4 linked regions of the Homo sapiens genome follow. The protein of the gene in region 2 purifies or fractionates together with the protein of the main gene of each other region. This does not show direct contact. Each region holds a gene or a part of one and is shown on either strand. Other genes may lie near its edges.

Region 1 (4,852 bases), on a different chromosome or scaffold from region 2:
GCCATTGCACTCCAGCCTGGGCAACAAGAGCGAAACTCTGTGAAAGAAAGAAAGGAAGAAAGAAAGAAAGAAAAGAGAAAGAAAGAAAGAAAGAAAGAAAGAAAGAAAGAAAGAAAGAAAGAAAGAAAGAAAGAAAGGAAGGAAGTCGAACTTGAACCTTGAGACTCAGATGCAGCAACAATATGGACACTGTCTTTTATAAGTAACTGGTCCCAATCACTTTGCCTGACAACTTGGGCAACAGCAGCTATTTGAGAGAACTAGTGTCTTGTACAAAGGAAACCCTCATTCTCCTTTGTCTAGGAACACAAGAAACTTAGAAGCAGTGAAGCAGAGGCAGGTTTTTCCCACATCAAATTCTTTAAGGTGCTATTTCTCCTTCCTTGTTAGTTATTTCATAATTTGGTTACTCTAGAGATCTGCCTGCTTTAAACTCACCTTTGCTCAGGGAATGAAAGGAGTGAGGAGAGAGGGCTGGATAATGGGGGAGGGGCTTGAGGAGGAACACATTAATTATCACCACTCCTTGAAGCTGTTCTTTAAAGCACTGTATTAGGTCAAATTGATCACATGTGTTATATCCACCAATTTTAAAATAGGGAAGCATCCTCAGTATAATTGATTTGATAATATAGAATGTTAAAAATGTGACCCAAGATCTATTTTCTAAATGACCACAAAGAAGACTCTATGGCTGGGTAAGTTCTGGTAAGAGGTAGGATTTTCCCTATTTTGAGGTGGGTACACAGGTTGTTGGGATTTTTGGCAATCTACTCAGAAAATTTAGTTGCCACACAAAAATCTATAGAGGTTATAAGGGGATTTAGGTATAGTGAGTCAAATCCTATTCTAATAGGAATGGTCTTTATTAAAATACCAGACATACCTACAGCTTTCTTTGGTATTTCTCCCAATGACCTCAGCCTTAGGGACACACCCTAAAGTAGGCTTTTTAGAAGCAACAGCTGAGCCGCGACCACTTACCTAAAAGAATAATCCTCTGTGAATATGTCCAGGAAATCCTGCTCTTAGGGTGCATATTTCCAATGAGTTGCAATTCACAAATAATTTCTCAGCAGTTCAAAGAAAATTTGGGCATAATATTTTCTCTGTTAACCCAACCAAATGTCCTTCCTCGTTATACCCTTAATGATTTCATGCTCTGCCTCAATAGTGCTACTCAGAGTTAATTATGAACAAAATCTAGAGTAAATGCTACAATTAAGATTTTCCTTTTTATACCCTGGCAGATAAGCACAATGCATGATCACCACCATTCACACTTCAACCTCAGCAGAGACTGAAGGGTGATTGCTAATGGTTCTGTTGATGTCTATAGCATTAGAAATTTGAGCATCAATCAACCCGGTGTTTTGAAAAATACATTGCCTAATTTTTTTTCAAAGCAACCGAAGAATGTAACCATAACCAATGATGCCACCTCCCACCAACGGCCACCACCCACTATTTAAATTACCTTCCTCCAGTTCATCCATGCTTCCGATCTTCCTGGATCCATCAATGGTGTAAATGTAACGCACTCCCTGAGGCAGGTTGATGTTGTCAGACAGAGATCGCGTCAGGTCAGCCAGCAAGGCGTCAAAGCTGCGAAAACGGTCAGAGGACACAGCGTACACAATCCCCTTGAAGTAGCGGTCCCCATTGCGGTAGAAACGTACCTTCTTGGCTTTCTTCTCATTACTCAGTGCCTGCAAGGTTCTGGTTCGGTAGAAGCTACAGTGGGCGCTGTGAGTGGGGCTAGGCAACCCATTCATCCGGGAGCCTCGCATGTTCCTGGATGTCTTATCTCTTTCGTCAAAGTGTCCAAAATCAAGTTCCATATTTTGGTGGAACCTCAGAGACCTGAGCGTGGGAGAAAGGGATGGGGGTGAAGAGAGGCAAAAACAAAAAGGGACAAGGAGAAGGAAAAAAGAAGGGATTTTAAATATTAGCCAGATCCAGATCTGCAATCTGCTGCTTGTGAAAAGAACTGGTTGAAAAAAGCCTGTGACCCATCTGCTGCTTGCCCCTGACCTGCAGGAATATTGATCTTAATAGAGAAGAAGGAGGGGCTGGGCGGGGGTGCTGGTGGTTGTGGGGGTTGGGAGTAAGAGATAGAGAGGGAGGCACTCTTGGCACTGTTCCAGACAGAGGAGAAGGGGAGATTTTGAAATAGCTGAAAATCCTGAGACTTACTGACAGTGGCTCCTATCAAATTGGAACTTCGGGCTAAATACATTAAAACTGGCATCTGTTTCCTCACACATGCCCACATGACTAACAGTTGTAAATGAATCCATAGCCTGACAAAATTCCCCTTGAAGAGAACAGAAGGAGCTACCCAAGGTTAGCATCTCCAGCTTAGGAAGCAGTCTTTGCATTTCAGTACAATGACTATGAAGGGGGAGTGTTTTCATTTTATTCCAAGCCCTCTTTCCTACTCTAATGTGTGCATCCCCTCCCCCCAGAATAAACTAAGATTCTCCTTTAAAGGGACAGCCTCCAGGGAACAGCCAGTGTCTTTGTGCTATTCATCAAACCCTTTCCCCACCAAGCTGGTGCAGCTATCCGACATTCATAAGAAATAAGCTGGGGGGAAAAAGGATTAGAAAAATAAGTTATTTAACAAGTTACTAGCTCTGTCTTCCCCCGGTTCCATTTGTTCACAAAATCCTTTTTTTTCCCCCCCAGGTGCTCCACCCCCTCCCCACTGATGCAGCAACACCTCTTAATGGAATAATTTAATTGTTGAAAGATTCACAAATGACTCTCCGAACAGCATACGGGACCTTTAGAAGGAAGCACACCTTTCATTGTTCTGGGTTTCTACCTTAATTGAAGTGACATTTACCCTCACAGCAGGCAATTCACCCCAAACTTGTATATTGCCCAGGTGCATTAGCTGAGAAAAGATGGTCATTTGTCAGGCTTTGCTTTTCTCCCTTCTGTTGAACCCCCTCCCCCACCAAGAACCCCAAACAATCAAAACATGAAACCCAATACAACTGAAGCCACAAATGCTAGCAAATGTAGTGACATCCTACGAGCCAAACTATTAACATGCATCTCACAGATGGGGATAAAAGGACTCACAAAGCAAGCAGGGCTCAGCTGCTACACACTGCCACATCAATATATTTGCAAGGGACCAGGAGGACAGGAGATAAGAAAGACTGGTGCCTAATGGGTCTGCCAGGCTCAATTCCGCCTTTTTTCCAATGTCACCATGACCTATGCTGAGCTCAGCATTGTCTCTGTCAGACAACCTGCAGTGGTAAGAGACCCCACCTCCTCAAGGCAAGCAGCAAACATTTCCCCAGGCATGCCAGTAAGGCTTTGCTTTGCTTTAGGATCAGAGGTAGTATTATTCTAAATTAACATCACAGTGAAAACAAAGGAACATCAAACTCACTTTTCCAAAGGAAAATCCCAGGTAGAAGCTTAGGGAAAAAATCGGATAGAATAAGGCAAAAAAGGAGAAGAGGAGACAGAGAGACAGAGAGAGCAGGCTTTGCCTTGTGCTTTTCCCGTTTGACATCTGTTACATTCTTCTTGAAAATCACTTAAAAGCCCCACTCACCGGTTTTCTGCTGGTTGGGTGGAGATGCTGAGAGAAAGAAAACCAATCTCTCTATGCCTTTGTTGTCTGAGCTCCAAGCAAGAAATTCCTGCCAGGGTGGATAGATGCCTTCTAGGTCCTAGTGCCTTGTCCAGCTTCTCCCATGTAACTCAGGCTTAGTGAATCCCCCCAACCTCCTATGATTAATTACATGCTTTTAAAAAAATTCACAGGCTGCATTAACAGCTAGAAAGGTTTCATTTATAACCAACAGGAAATTGCGGGGTAGCAAAAAGATTGCGCAGACAAAATCAGAATGCTCTAATGAGCAATGTGCTAGCCCTTTCTTTTAGAAAATTGGCAATTTCACTTGGCCAAAACCTTGGCCTAATCTGCCTGGGGGCCAGACTCAGACAGCCAAGCCAGGCTTCTTAGAAATTGTAGCTCTCTTCCTTTTACCCTCTTGAGAGAAAAAAAATAAAATAAAATCTGCAGATTCTTTAAGGCAGTTTAGCTCAAGTATCCAACAACTGGTTTTTTGTTTTTTAATGAAGTCAACAAAGTAGACTAAGAGGAAGTAGGATAGGAACAAAACAAGGGAAAATAATTTTAGAATATTATGGAAGATAGAAGTAAAAAGGACATCCCAAATCTATCAGCTTGGTGTAAGAATTTGGTTAATGAAAGGTTAATGTGGCATTTACCTTTGAGAGTTTGGAAGTTCAAACCCAACCCAAAGACCTTTCTATGTGAAGTAAATCTGATGGCTACAAAATAAATATTAACAGATTTCTCCTCAAACTGCTTATTTGTCACTAACTGACTTCTTTATATAAAATATGTTACAAAAAAAACTCAAGGAAGCATCCAAATTGAACTAATTAGATCAGGCCGAACTATAAAACAAAAGAGAAAGGTGAGAGGTTAAATGGGGTAGGGGGATGCTACCATCTTCACAATTGAAGCTACATGCATCAATATGTAGCAGCCTTGAACTATCATGGTTCTATTTTTGCTTGGCTTCCAGGAAGCTCAGAGCTAAGAGCATGCTCAGTAATTATTTTATATCTGATTCCTAGTATAATTAACCCTTCCTTTTATATAGTGCTGTTGAACTTTTATATTTAAGCATTTTCTCTGCATGTGTTTTATTGTAAGCTGCCACCAAGTGGGATAAAATATATGATGGTCTTTCTTCTGTGAAAGGTGTTGACTCAGCAAAGCCTGGAACTGTCTGTTAGTTGAGTGGATAGCCTCAAATGTGCAACCTACCTAGTTAAGTCCCCCCAACAC
Region 2 (5,171 bases):
GACTCCACACTTGATACCTTCTTATTTTAGGCCTCCTTTCACAAGGCAGTGGGAATGAGAGGCAGGTGTGACTGGACGGAGGCGGTTTTATTTGTCTGTTGCCGAGGTTGTTAGCATGCTGAATGGAGGCGCACAGAAGATAGAAAATGGACTCTCCAGGTTGCTCTCATCAGGTAGTTTGGGGTCTGGAGCTCATTAAGGGCAGGAGCCCTGTCTTCCCCACCTTCCATACCCCACACAGCACCTGGCTCCTGGTGGGGCTTCAGCTAATGTCTGTTCAGTTATGTGTGTTGAACGAAACTGTCACATCGTCCTGATCTCTCATGACCACTCTTGTGCAAATATGTCAAATAGTTTGTGACCTTTCATATTGCTGTGTGAGAACAAATAATGTTTCTGTGCCAGCCCTGTTCATCAGGGATGTTTAAGACCTCTGTCTCCTATACACTTCAGTTGAATATTCACTTAGGTGACTTGCAGAGGGAATTATTCTCCTTTGTCACTTTGTGCCTTTCTCTTCGTATTAACAATGGGTAGCTGTAGAGGTTCAGGAAGCAATACAGCAAGTCCTGTAATTAGTGTGGCCTTTTCCTTGCCAGCCCTAATGGCAAATGCAGTAAGTTACTTTCCTCACTATGGATTTATTGTTCATTCTGCTTGCAGTTTCTGACCATTTATGTTGATCTTAAGGGTGCTGTGAGGAGTGCAGTGATCTCGTTGCAGTAAGAATCTGTTATCCAGTTGTATGACTCTGAATTGTGAGTTATAGACTTGTGTGGAACAGATGTGTTACTGAGTGATTGTAGAGCTTGAAGACTTTTTTCTTTTTCCTACACTTTGGAAGTGATGTGAGTCAGTAATGATGAGACTTAATAAAATACAAGCACTTTACCTGTACTACGTAATTTAATCAACCAGTGGTCTGTTGAAGATGGTCAGCAGAGTTGGTGAAGTTTGTTTGGTACCATTGTAGGGGTCAGATGCTGATTTCAGTATGAGAATAAATAGCTTGTACATTCTTGGAGTATTTACTTACCCTGTATGTTTACATCCTAAATGTGTGGAGGGTGCTCTGGTGTAAAGATGCCCTCTGTGCCTGTGCTCATTTAGGCCCTGCTGTGGAGGGTGCTGTGGTGTAAAGATGCCCTCTGCCTGTGCTCGGTTAGGCCCTGGGCTGTGGAGGGTGCTCTGGTGTAAAGATGCCTTCTGCCTGTGCTCGGTTAGGCCCTGGGCTTCGTTGTCCTTCCGTGCAGCGGGCACTGCCTTTGGCGATGGTATGTGCAGCTGCTGACATGGCTCATGTACCTTGCTCCTGTGGACAGTGATGGCTGTGGTCTGTCACGCCCTTGGCTTGGGGGCAGTGTAGTCAGGAGAAGGGAAACGAGGAAATGGTCCTGCTGTTGTCACTGTCAAGCCAGCCATGAGAACATTCTGGCTTTTAACATGTCCTCCTGAACCAGTCAAGCTCTAATGCACCCTCACATGCCCAGCACAATGCCCAGTGCAGAGAATGTGAGGTTTTAAATTTGAGCAGGAGACTTTAGCGGTATGTATTCATTTGTACATTTAACTTCAGCTTGGAAAAGTTTACACTGAATTTCATCTTGTTTTTTCTTACAGTGAAAAATGTGAGGTTTTACAATATTCTGCAAGGGAAGCTCAAGATTCAAAAAAGGTAAGAAAATGGTTGAAAAGTTGAAAGTTATTCCTACATTTGATTCATGTGTAAGGTTCTTGCAAATCAGATCGTCAGTTAGATTCCCACTGGTCTTAACAAACATCACTGTTTTATCACCTGAAAGCAGTGCCAGTCAAACCCATCATCACACTCCCCTGGCCATGAGGTTTCGAGTTTCTTTCAAGTAATTCGGTTTCTACGATCTGAAAATTACAGATGTCACAGAATCTTGGGTCATCCACTCTACCATTTTTATTAAAGAGATGGAAAATTGAAAGTTGGATTAGTTAATGGGAAAGATTTACATGTAAAGATAACAGTTTTCCTTAAATTCGTGTGTTTTGTGAAAGTCTAGTAAATCTTGGTGTAGTTTTCAGGGAACTTTATGAATAACAGCCAGACAAACATTAAAACATCTGAAGAAGAATAACGAAAGAACATTTGCCCTCTCACATACAAAAACAAACTATACGATTGTAGTAAGGAGAGCATTGTGGTGTTAATGCAAGAATTAATAAAGAGCTTAATGGAACAAAACAAGAGTCCAGAAACATGTATGCACCTGTGTGTAAGTATCTTCAGTTTGGCAAAGTTAGTTCCTTAAAGGATAATTACAAAAATGAAGTAGAGGAAAATTGTTTCCTAAATGGTACTGAGGCAACTGAGCATCCATTTGTTAAAAAACAAGTTTTTTATTTTGTATTTTATATATTAAGCATAAATTACTAAAAACAAAACGAGGTGTAACAATTCTAGAAGAAAATACAAGTTTCAGGATCTGGTCTTGAAGTGTGAGTGGTGCCCGTGTAACAGAGAAGCTTTGCATAGTTGGCTGCTGGGGTGACAAGCGTGCTTCAGTTGCCTCTCAGCATTGGGAGGGTGAGAAGAGGGAGGTTGACTGAGCTTTTCTGCACAGAGAGTAGCATTCTCCTTGCAGAGGGAAGCCCTGCATTCTCGCCCAGGCTCTCCTACTACCAGTTGTAAAGTTCTTTTGAGACCTTGGTTTATTCTACTCAGACTGATTAAATTACATTTCATTTTCTCCTCCGCCTTCTGTTTCTGTTTTTAGAGTATTTATATACCTTTGAGAGACTGTTTAGGTGGCATGTATCTTAGAAGAAGAATAATACGTTTTGTCTCCAATACTATGTTATTTGAGTTCATTTTTGAATTTACTCAAATTCCCGAAACTAAAGAGGGTTCATGAGTTTGGCCTGTTGTGAGGAGAGAATGCGTATGGAAAGATTACTCCTCTGGAAAGTCAGACTGTGTAGACAGCCAGCCTTGAGGCCGGGCACCTAGATCATTAGGTCTCTCTAGGTAATGGGTTTGTATCTTATTCTTTTGTCATTTTGAGGGGCTAGGTTTTGCCTTTTAGAAGGAACTTACTTGGGAAGAAATGAGTAGCCTGTCCTGAAGGCTGATTTTTCTCCCCTAGTCTTCATTGTTCTCACCTGTCCTTTTCTCCCAGCCTGCAGGGTAATGTCTGTCCTACTTGATCCCTGAGTGTTAGCTAGGCAAGGCCATACTGTGATGCAACACTCAACCCCACCATTTCATTAAAGGTCAGCCAGCTTCACTTCCATTCTGACTGTTACGGTGTGATTCTTCCTGCCAAATATTCATAGCTTATAATGTATTAAAATGTTACCTCTTGGCCAGCCATGGTGGCTCACGTCTATAATCCCAGCACTTTGGGAGGCTGAGGCAGGAGGATCGCTTGAGCCCAGGAGTTTGAGACCAGCCTGGGCAACGTGGTGAGACCCCATCTCTACTAAAAATACAAACATCAGCCAGGTGTGGTGGCATATGCCTGTAGTCCCAGCAACTCGGGAGGCTGAGGTGCTGAGGTGGGAGGATTGCTTGAGCCCAGCAGGCCAAGGCTGCAGTGTGCTGTGATTGTGCCACTACTTTCCAGCCTGGATGATAGAGCCGGACCCTGTCTCAAAAAAAAGTTATTTCATTTAAATTTCTAAAATGGGGTTCTCTGTTTAAATTGGAATTTTTCCTGTCTTAGGTGGTAGAGGACATTGAATACCTGAAGTTCGATAAAGGGCCGTGGCTCAAGCAGGACAATCGCACTTTATACCACCTGCGATTACTGTAAGTGCATCTGTGTGGGGGCTGCTGCATGTCTGGGGTCTACTTGCATGATGGGGAAACTTAGGGAAGTTTGAAATAATTATGTTTCAAGTTAGGTGTTAGCAGCACCAACCCAATACTTAGAGGTATTTTTTCTTCCAAACAGCTCCTGAATCCCCTGGTCTGATACTTAATTTATTGAGTGCCATTATTAATTTAACAGGCATTTTGCTTCCACTATGTGCAACACCGTTCCAGATTTAAGAGATATAGTGTCAGATAAAATTCTTGATGTCTTTGAAAATGTGTTTTAGTAGGTGAGACAGAGTAAACAAATAGATAAAACTGCGTCAGGTCACAAAGGCCAGGGAGAGAAGTAACCCTGAGTAACAGGGTGGTGAGTAGCTAGGGGTGACAAAGGGCCTCTCTCGGGATGAGGCCTAAGTGAGGCCAGGATTGGGTCCTGTGGGCCGTGGGGTGAGCAGAGGGCAGGGGCTTGGCAGGTGCAGAGGCTCTTCAGGCAGGAGTGTGGTGGGAAGGTGCGCCCAGCAGCCAAGCCAGTGTGGCCAGAAAAAGTGTGGGGAGGGGAGGCCACAGCGGAATGGAGCAGGACTAGGAGAGGAGGCCATGGCGGAATGGGGCAGGACTAGGAGGGGAGGCCGCGGTGGAAGAGGGCAGGACTAGGAAGGGAGGCCACTGCAGAAGGGGGTAGGACTAGGAGGGGAGGCCACAGCAGAAGGCGGATAGGTCTTGGTGCGTTTGGTGGGTTTTCTTCTGATGAGATGAGATGCCGTTTGGGGGTTTGAAGCAGAGGAGTAATACGATATGACTTATATCCATTCAGCTATTGTGTGGATTCTTTGGTATCTATTAAATGAAAAACAAAAACCATACCGATTAGGTAAGGTTGAAAAAAGCTGTCTTCATCTGCACCACTCTATTGAAACTGCTCCTGCCAAGGAGACGGCCTCGCCATTCCAGATGCGGCAGACCCTTGTCTGTCTTCATGCTGCTCCCTGGCCCTGGAAGCAGCACCGCTGCCCCTCTTCTCCACTCCCTTCTCCTGGTTCCATGCCCTCCTCCTCCCCCACTCTCTCACTCCTCCACCAGCTGCTGCCTTCTGGGGCCGGGCTCTCTTTTTCTGGTTCCTTCTGCCTGCTGCTGGGCTCTGGCAGGCACAGTGACCCCGGGCAGTGTCTCGTCCGTTGAATTCAGTTTCTTGAGGACGTACCTAGTCACACAGCTGTGGATAGCGTGGATACCACCGTAGGTCTTGGCCCAGACCTTTACCCTGCACACCCAGCAAATATCCCTCGGCTGCCTCTTGCAGTGTCTCTGTGCATTGACCTTCCCACCGGTGATCCCCAGCTCTGCCTCTTCTGTCCTGGCTGGTGCTGGCCACCCGGGAATC
Region 3 (4,335 bases), on a different chromosome or scaffold from region 2:
TGAGGGTCACAGAGATGAGCGAGGGAAGAAATAAGAGACAAAGAGGCAAAGAAGGACAAAGAAACGAAAGAGACAGATGAAGAGAGAAACAGAGAACCAAAAATGAGGAGCTGACAGAGGCAGAGCAGTAGAGAATGAAATGGAGATATCAGCAAGGGGTAGGGCGAGAGAAAATCAGACAGAGGCAGAGACACAGGAGAGATACAGAGATCAAGGTTCCTCGGACAGAGAAGGGAAGAGAGAGGAGTCACACTCTTCCCTGTCCCCCCTTCCCACTCTTATCCATCTTCCTGCCCCTCACTGAAAAAAAAAACATCAAATAAAACACTTATCCAAAATCCAATTATAAATCACATCCATTCTGCCATCATGGAAATGAGTAACCAGGAATTTCAATTTCAATGAGTGCATAGAAAGGATGGAAGCTATTAGTGTATGTATGTGAGCAGACACACACACACACAGAGCTAGTGCCTCTGTAGCATCTCTCTGTTCCTACAGCGTATCTCAAGCTGGTTCTAGGATCACCTGCGCTGCACAAAAGAAGAAATTGAACCTTATAAGGCAAAGGTTTCTGAACAGAGGGAGGAACCTAGCCAGCTCCATGCCCTCTTTCCTCCCCTCAACCCTCAAAGGACATCCTCTGAGGAGCATGAGAACGCTTCCTCATTTTCCTTGTTTAAAATACTCTCCACCTTCTCTGAGAAAATACCCGCACCCTTCAAGTTCCCCAAATTATTCAGGGACAGGGTCTTGTCCACCTCTGTGCTTTGAGCATGAGTATAGGGCCTGCTACCCAAAAGTCATTAGTAAGTGTCTGTCAGGTGAATAAATGTACGCTGGTTCTAGATATATATGAATATACACACATATATACATTAGACATGTTTGCTATCCATGTACATATGAACTTTTATAAAGTAATTCATTCATAATACTAACAAAAATGTTCTCCTAGTAAGTTCTTTCTAAATCTATTTTCCCTCCAGTGTTCTTAATCTCATTGGTATTATCATCCAGACTCTTCATCCCATCTAAAAATACTCTCATCAAATCAATAAGGCCTGTTGATCTTATTGTCTTCTAAATGTCTTCTACTTTATCTCCCATGCAATCTAGCCACCTGCTAAAAGAAAAATCAAATCCTCCTGAATGGCACTCCTTTTATCATCCATCTTGTTGTCACTAACCTTTCCAATCAAGTCGCATTCTTTGTTCCACCTTCAATGGAAATCTATACAAAAATACTTCCTATTTCTTTCAGAATTAACATTAAACTCCTTATTTTGGTATTGAGAACTCTCCCAATTACACTCCAACCCACCTTCCCAAAATCATTTCCTATTCCTTTCCCCATCTCTAATGACATCAAAGTTTTCATCATTCCCTATGTACTTATGTCCTCCTCTCCACCAGGCCTCTATCCATTGACATTCACATGTCCTTTCCCTCCTCTTTCTCCACATCTAGATCTTTGAACTTTCAGCTTAAGTTGCATCTTGTTCCTCAACCTGATCACTGACCCTAGGGAGAGTTAGTCATTCCTGTCTCTGGATTGCCAATGCACTTGAAACATATATTTATTACTGCTCAAATTGTAACATATGATAATTATTTAAATATCATTTTTCTCCATTACACTGTGAGTTGTACAAGTGTAGACTGTCTCATTGACTTTTAAAGTATCACAGAGCTTACCACAGAACCTTGCACACACAGAAGCCAAATAAATATGAGAAAAGCAAATAAACATACCTTTCTGTGCTTTAATTAGTTGTTTTCCAATTTCTAGTGTCACGAAGGCTGTGCCATTTAGAACTATGTCAGTTATGGTTTTCCAAGCATTAGGAGAAAGTCTTTCAGTAGGAGAAATAAAATTCCCTGCTGCATTGTTTATCACAATCTAATAAATGAACAAGGCAAGTTACAGAAACTTTAGATGAGGAAAAACATTTTCCCTGCAGGGTTTTTTTTCTGAAATGTATTAATAGAAATAATACAATAAAGTTGAAGTCCACAGCTACCTACGAAACAATACCATGAGATTTGGTAGTCTGAGTCTGTGAAAACCTCCTACGTTAGTTACCAAATTTCAGAATCCTAAGCCGTCTTTAAATTAGGGTAGATTCTCTTATTAAGAAAACTAAGGCTGAGTGCAGTGGCTCATGCCTGTAATCCCAGCACTTTGGGATGAGTTCAAGACCAGGCTGGGCAACAAAGCGAGACGTCATCTCTACAAAAATTTTGTTTTAAAAATTAGCTGGGTGTGGTGGCACGTGCCTGTATTCCCAGCTACTTGGGAGGCTGAGGTGGGAGTATCGCTTGAACCCAGGAGGTCAAGGCTCCACTGAGCCGTGATTGTGCCACTTGCACTCCAACCTGAGTGACAGAGCAAGACTCTGTCTCAAAATAAATGAATAAAATTTTAAAAGTTAAAAAAAAGAAAATTAATACAGATTAAACATATTTACCATGTGACTGCATTTTATTTCAAAGAATCTCAAGAAATGGCTTTTTGTTTCTGGTGTCATTTTAGTTTAACTTAACCAATGCAGCTTGTGGTTGATGATCTATTTACCATCAGTAAAGATTCTGGCTAGTTCTACAGGAGATTCAGTGTTACTGGTTCTGAAAATACCTTTAACATAGAAAAGTGCTATCTTTGAGACTACTGGAAGAAACGGCTTCTCTCCGATAAATGTACCAAGCAACAGCAAAATATTCATGCATATTTCAGGTCTTAAAAGGAGAAATTTTGAATTTCTTATAGTTTTTCATGTTTATATCGTTCTCCTCCACTGAGGAAGACAATCAAAAGTTACTAGGAGAAGCAAAAAGCATCAATCATTTAAACTCAATGCTGTACTCTTGGATAACTGCTCTTGTTATTTCATAATCTTATTAAATAAAGTGAAATCAAGTTTGTTTTCTGATCAATCATAAATGGATTCTTTAAGTATTCCTGAAAGGAAGTTGTGTAGCAGTCTTCCTACTCTGTTCTTTGCTTTAGCAGAACTGGCATTTTCCTAGGGATGGAAAATAGGTGCTTCTCAACACAGCACTTGCTCATATTGAGGTAGGAGGAGGCCTAACTCTGGAGGCAGAGTTCCATCACAGGACCAGAATGAGGACTAGTTAAACCAGGTCCTGGATGAAAGCACCCCCTCTTTAGACATACCCACCAATGCACCATGTTTGTTTACCATTGCCATGGCAATGTCAGCAAGTTACTGCCCTTTCCATGGCAACGAACTGATAACTCAGAAGTTACCAACCCTTTTCTAGAAATTTCTGCATAAACCTAATTAATTTGCAGGCAATTAAAAGTGGGTATAAATACGACTATAAAACTGCCTCTCAACTGCTATGCCCAGCACATTGACTATGGTGTTGCCCTGCTCTGAAGGAACAGTCACAGATCCATTCCACTGCTGCTGCTTCAATAAAGCTGTTCTCTTCTACCACCGGCTCATCCTTGAATTCTTTCCTGGGTGAAGCCAAGAACCTTCCCAGGCTAAGCCCCAGATTCGGGCTTGCCTGTCCTACATCAGTATCAATATTTTATTTCCTTTGTACATGTTGGTGGGTGTTATCAACATCAAGTGTCTTGCACTTTGGCTTCATCATTGCTACACTTACATTAGGATGTCCTGCAACTTTGATCAGTTCTGACACAGTGTTTTGAACCATATCAGGATCCCTCACATCACACTGAATTGCATGAACCTGCAAAATAACAAAAAGAATATGACATTTTCCAGCTTTCTTAAACCAAACGCATGAACAAATTATTTGAACATGTTATAATTCCTAAATCTAAATTAAATAACTGATTTTTAATGTACCTTATTTCCAGTTTGAGAAGAAATTTGTTCTGCGGTAGCTTTCAAAACATCCATCTTCCTAGAAATAAACACCTTGTATGACTTCATATTATATTTTTCAATTTCATAAATTGAAGAATACAGAGAATCCATAGCTTAAAGAAAAGCATTTCTGAGAAAGTATAGATGTTATTTATATACAAAAATCAATGTGAATTTTTTCTAAAAGTCAAATTTAGATCATTTTTATATATTTGATACTAACTTATTGAATTAGTCACTTTTAAACCAGTTTACTTTAACATTATCTACTCACAGATTTAAATTATTTCCTTGATAAGCCAGGTTTACAAAGAAAATATATTCATGGTATAATGTTAGTAGGTTTTGTACTAAATTTATGGGTTCAAAGAGACTACATTTATTCATGCAGTCTCACATTCTACAAAAAAAACTATGAATAGAAATTATTATTAAAATGAAAATAATATATTTAAACTCTTAAAAACAT
Region 4 (4,335 bases), about 200 Mb from region 2:
GGCCAGGCATGGTGGCTCAATCCTAGCACTTTGAGAGGCCAAGGTGGGCAGATCACAAGGTCAGGAGTTCGAGACCAGCCTGACCAACATAGTGAAACCCCGTCTCTAGTAAAAATACAAAAATTAGCTGGGCATGGTGGTGTGCATCTGTAATCCAGCTACTCAGGAGGCTGAGGCAGGGAATCGCTTGAACCCAGGAGGCAGAGGTTGCAGTGATTGCTGCAGTGATTGATTGCAGAGCTGAGATTGCGCCATTGCACTCCAGCCTGGTGACAGAGCGAGACTCCGTCTCAAAAAAAAAAAAAAGTTTAGGCTGGGCAAAGTGGCTCATGCCTGTAATCGTAGCACTTTGGGGGGCCAAGGTGGGAGGATTGCTTGAGGCCAAGAGTTCAAGACCAACCTGGCCAACAAAGCAAGACCTCGTCTCTTTTTATATTAAAAAAAAAAAAAGCAGAAGGCATAAAGCAAAAGATTAATATTTCATTTCTTACATTAAAATTAAAAACTTCTTGCTCTACAAATAAACTAGCAGCTTTTTGTTCTTCAGAGACCCCATTAAGAGAGTGATTAGACAAGCCACAGAGTGGGAGAAGTTATTTGTAACACGTAACCAACAGAGAACTAGTAGTTAGAATTATTTAAATAACTCCTTTAGGTCAGTAAGAAGACAGATAACTTGAGAAAAATCAGGCCAAAGATGTGAACAAGTCCATTCATAAAAGAGGAAAATACAAACGGCTAAAAAAGCAAAAAAAAAAAAAAAAAGATTAGTCACATTGGTAGTCAGGAAGATGAAAATTAAAATCACAATGAGATACTACTGTAACCCTTGCCAGATTAGAAAAAAAAGCTAAAAGTCTGTCAACACCAAGTATTGGTGAAGATGTGGATTTGTGGATCAATGGCAACTCTCATATACTGCTTGTAAAACTATAATTTAGTACATCCTTTTTTCTTTCTCTTTTTTTTTTTTTTTTTTGAGACACAGTCTCACTTTGTCACTCAGGCTGGAGTGCAGTGGTACGATCTTGGCTCACTGCAACCTCTGCCTCCCAGGTTCAGGCGATTCTTGTCCCTCAGCCTCTTGAGTAGCAGGGATAATAGGCGTGGATCACTACACCCGGCTAATTTTTTTATTTTTAGTAGAGAAGGGGTTTTACCATGCTGGCCAGGCTGATCTTGAACTCTTGGCTTGAAGTGGTCCGCCTGCCTCGGCCTCCCAGAGTGCTGGGATTACAGGCATGAGCCCCCGTACCCAGCCTTGTACAACCTTTTTGAAAAGCTATTGGCCATTATCTATTAACATCAAAGTTTCTTATATTGTATGACCCAGCAATTTTACTGCTAGTGATATACCCTAGAGAAACTAGTGTATATGTGTACCAGGAGACACATACAAGAAGATAGCAGCATTGTATAAAATAGCGGAAAATAACAGCACAAATGCCCATCGGGGGGTAAATGAATCAGTTAATTGTGGTATAGTCATACAGTGGAATACGAAGTACTGCAAGAATGCGTGAAATCACAGTGGAATATAACAGTGTTCAACATGAAACAAGATGTGTGAAAGTAGCAGTTTGCAAGAGTTCGTATCATATGATTGTATTTATATAAAATCCAAAAAATAGTCAACATTAAACAATATGTATTTGGTGATAAAAATATATTTAGTAACATTTATAAAGAAAAGTCAGGGTGTTATTAACTCAAGATTCAGAATGGTGGTGACTTCCAAGGGTAGAGGGAGTCCACAGGGGCTTTGGAGATAAGGTCATGTCCCATTTATGGTAGATATTCTCTCTTGTATCATTGTTTCTATCAGTCTACGTACTATTTTATGAAAACATTAAAAAGGAGGACAGTTGTTTATAGTACCTGATAAGTAATAGTATTTATTAAACTTTTGTAGTTTTTAGTATTTTGGAACTCATTAGTGTTTTTGAGTTTATTTTATATGTACTTGACAATTCAATGTAAAAAACAAACATGGCTGGGCGCAGTGGCCCATGCCTGTAATCGCAGCACTTTGGGAGTTCGAGGCTCCCAAAGTTCAAGATCAGCTTGGGCAATACGGTGAAACTCCATCTCTACAAAAAATACAAAAATTACCCAGTCGTGGTAGCATGCGTCTGTGGTCGAAGCTAGTTGAGGGGCTGAGATGGGAGGATTGCTTGAGCCCAGGAGGTTGAGGCTGCAGTGAGCTGTGATTATGCCTCTGAGTAACAAAGTGAGACCCTGTCTCAAAAAAAAAACCAAAAAACACCAACACATACTCAATATAAATTTAAATTTCTTGATGCTTTATGGTTTTTGCTTTAAATTAGAAATTAAAGGATTTAAAAAATATATAAAATATATAAACATATGACAAATAAGAATCTTGATTATTTGGGTGAAGAAAGAAAACAAAATCACGAATTTAAATTTCCAGGGCTCTATTTTATGTTTTTCAGCAAGGTCATTTGAATATAAAATATTTAATAAGGACCTCAAATCATATTCTCTTGTTCAAGTACTTTAAAAGTTGATTCCAGAGCCCTTAAAATGTATGAAGGATGCTTTTCCAGACTGAGTCATAAGAAGTCCTAAAAGCCAAAGAATTTAAAGGGTTGTAAAGCAAATAGCCAGAGAAGTGTCAGACCTGTTTTATTTTTGATGTTACCTTCTGAAGGAATTTCTCCTGGGAAGTTTTTCCATTTGTATTTCGATCTCAAAACTAAATTTGGAAAAATCATCTTGTTCATATTATCAGTCTGGATGTGCATATTCATATCTCAAAAGTATTAATTGGAGGCAGATCACCAGTAGAAATTAAATTCAAATGAAAAATAATGTTGATACACTTTATGCTTTTGCTATTGATTTTTTAGCCTTAAAAGATTGGTAAAATATTAGTATTTTCCTTTTTCCCTTGCATGTTTACAACAGTGAAAAAATGTGTAGCTAAATATAGATTGAAAATGTGGCAGACCCCCGAGTTAAGCAGTCAGGTTTTCAGTACCATTCAGATTTGGTTCTTTGAGGTTAGAGTTCTCATCATCTCAAAGATGAGATTACTTCCTAGACCTAGAGATGTTATCAAATCAAGGCTGTGTACATTTTATTTCCTTGGTCTTTTTTTAGACTCCATAATCTGAATCATTGTTTTTATCAGATGCCAAATCTTTTATTTTCATTTGTTAATCATAATTTATCATTAGGAAACCAAATTGTGCATTGTTCATTTCTTATTTAGATTATGCTTAATAACTAGTAGGTTAGGATTCTTATAGACTGCTGGAGAGTGGCTTGGGTAAGGAACACATCTCTCTGAAATATTACCTCTATTGTGACATGACTAAATCATTGATGTAAATGATTAGGAAACTTAAAACCTACTTAACACATTGTATTTTTTTTTCTTCTTTTGGTATTTAGGTGTTCACTCAACTTGGATCTGTGCTGAAAAATTGTGACATTTCAGTACATCTGGTAGAGGTAAGCCAAAAATTAAGTGAGATTCAAGCATTGACACTGACTAAAGAGAAGGTCCCGTTAGAGCGAAATGCTGGATCCCCAGTGTATATGAAAGGTGTCACTAAGTCTGGGATTCCAATTTCCTGGTACCGAGATCTGCACGATGTTCCAAAAGGTAATTACCTTTATGTGGATTAATGAAAGAATTTTGATCACAACCCTCACAGTATTGATGGGACTGTAACTTTTTACAGCAATATAATAGATTGAGTTACTGCTGCCAAGTCCCTTATCCATAGAGAGTAGCCTACTTTTTTCTAGAAAAGAGCATCTTAATAGAAAATAAAGTTGCCTGACATTAAGTAGTAGTTTATTTCATGAAGCTTTGTAAAATCCCAAACAAAATGTAAATCTCCTTTGTACTTTTGAGTATTTCCCTATAGCTAGGGTTGTACCGATGACGGAGCAGCCCAAGGCAGCTGGGGCTGATGGAAGCAGTGTTAGTAGGTGGGTTTAGTTCAGTTATAGAGTCTTTTAAAAAATCCTTACTTGCCTAAAGACAAGCAAGGTGTGGGGGAAAATCCCTGTACTAGTCAGGAATACTGACTAGTATTGACTAGTTTGAGTCTTGACTCAAAGCCAAAGTGGGGGTACGATCTTGGGTAAGGGATCTCAAGCCATTCCTGCCTCAGCCTTCTCAGGCTGAGAAGCCCGATTTTATGAAATCAAATTCCCTTCCAGCTAACAACTCTGACTTCTAATTTCTTTCAAGCCTTGTGATGAATAAAAGCTTTAACTGCTATTTCAGGTATTTCCATTTTCTGACCCCATTTATGTGTAAAATAAGAATAGTAATAATTGTTCTATGTTCTGCAG

Evidence for each region. Proteins that work in one complex are often made in the same cells at the same time.
Region 1: the proteins of NDUFA10 (region 2) and DCX purify together in Homo sapiens (affinity purification with mass spectrometry; 2 studies listed by BioGRID and IntAct, with this or other methods). This does not show direct contact.
Region 3: the proteins of NDUFA10 (region 2) and DECR1 purify together in Homo sapiens (affinity purification with mass spectrometry; 3 studies listed by BioGRID and IntAct, with this or other methods). This does not show direct contact.
Region 4: the proteins of NDUFA10 (region 2) and NDUFAF7 purify together in Homo sapiens (affinity purification with mass spectrometry; 3 studies listed by BioGRID and IntAct, with this or other methods). This does not show direct contact.

The regions. Positions count from the first base shown.
Region 1 is NC_000023.11:111,408,558-111,413,409, forward strand, and holds the start of DCX (neuronal migration protein doublecortin), read right to left. Parts: upstream 3,636-4,852; 5' UTR 3,581-3,635; exon of another isoform or gene 3,413-3,580; intron 2,590-3,412; exon of another isoform or gene 2,418-2,589; coding exon of another isoform or gene 2,197-2,417; intron 1,864-2,196; coding exon of another isoform or gene 1,842-1,863; coding exon 1,478-1,841; intron 1-1,477. UniProt on the Homo sapiens protein: Microtubule-associated protein required for initial steps of neuronal dispersion and cortex lamination during cerebral cortex development. May act by competing with the putative neuronal protein kinase DCLK1 in binding to a target protein.
Region 2 is NC_000002.12:240,003,820-240,008,990, reverse strand, and holds part of NDUFA10 (NADH dehydrogenase [ubiquinone] 1 alpha subcomplex subunit 10, mitochondrial isoform 1 precursor), read left to right. Parts: intron 1-1,620; coding exon 1,621-1,675; intron 1,676-3,695; coding exon 3,696-3,781; intron 3,782-5,171. UniProt on the Homo sapiens protein: Accessory subunit of the mitochondrial membrane respiratory chain NADH dehydrogenase (Complex I), that is believed not to be involved in catalysis. Complex I functions in the transfer of electrons from NADH to the respiratory chain.
Region 3 is NC_000008.11:90,018,477-90,022,811, reverse strand, and holds part of DECR1 (2,4-dienoyl-CoA reductase [(3E)-enoyl-CoA-producing], mitochondrial isoform 1 precursor), read right to left. Parts: intron 3,904-4,335; coding exon 3,846-3,903; intron 3,727-3,845; coding exon 3,640-3,726; intron 1,904-3,639; coding exon 1,756-1,903; intron 1-1,755. UniProt on the Homo sapiens protein: Auxiliary enzyme of beta-oxidation. It participates in the metabolism of unsaturated fatty enoyl-CoA esters having double bonds in both even- and odd-numbered positions in mitochondria.
Region 4 is NC_000002.12:37,238,158-37,242,492, forward strand, and holds part of NDUFAF7 (protein arginine methyltransferase NDUFAF7, mitochondrial), read left to right. Parts: intron 1-3,420; coding exon 3,421-3,634; exon of another isoform or gene 3,635-4,267; intron 4,268-4,335. UniProt on the Homo sapiens protein: Arginine methyltransferase involved in the assembly or stability of mitochondrial NADH:ubiquinone oxidoreductase complex (complex I).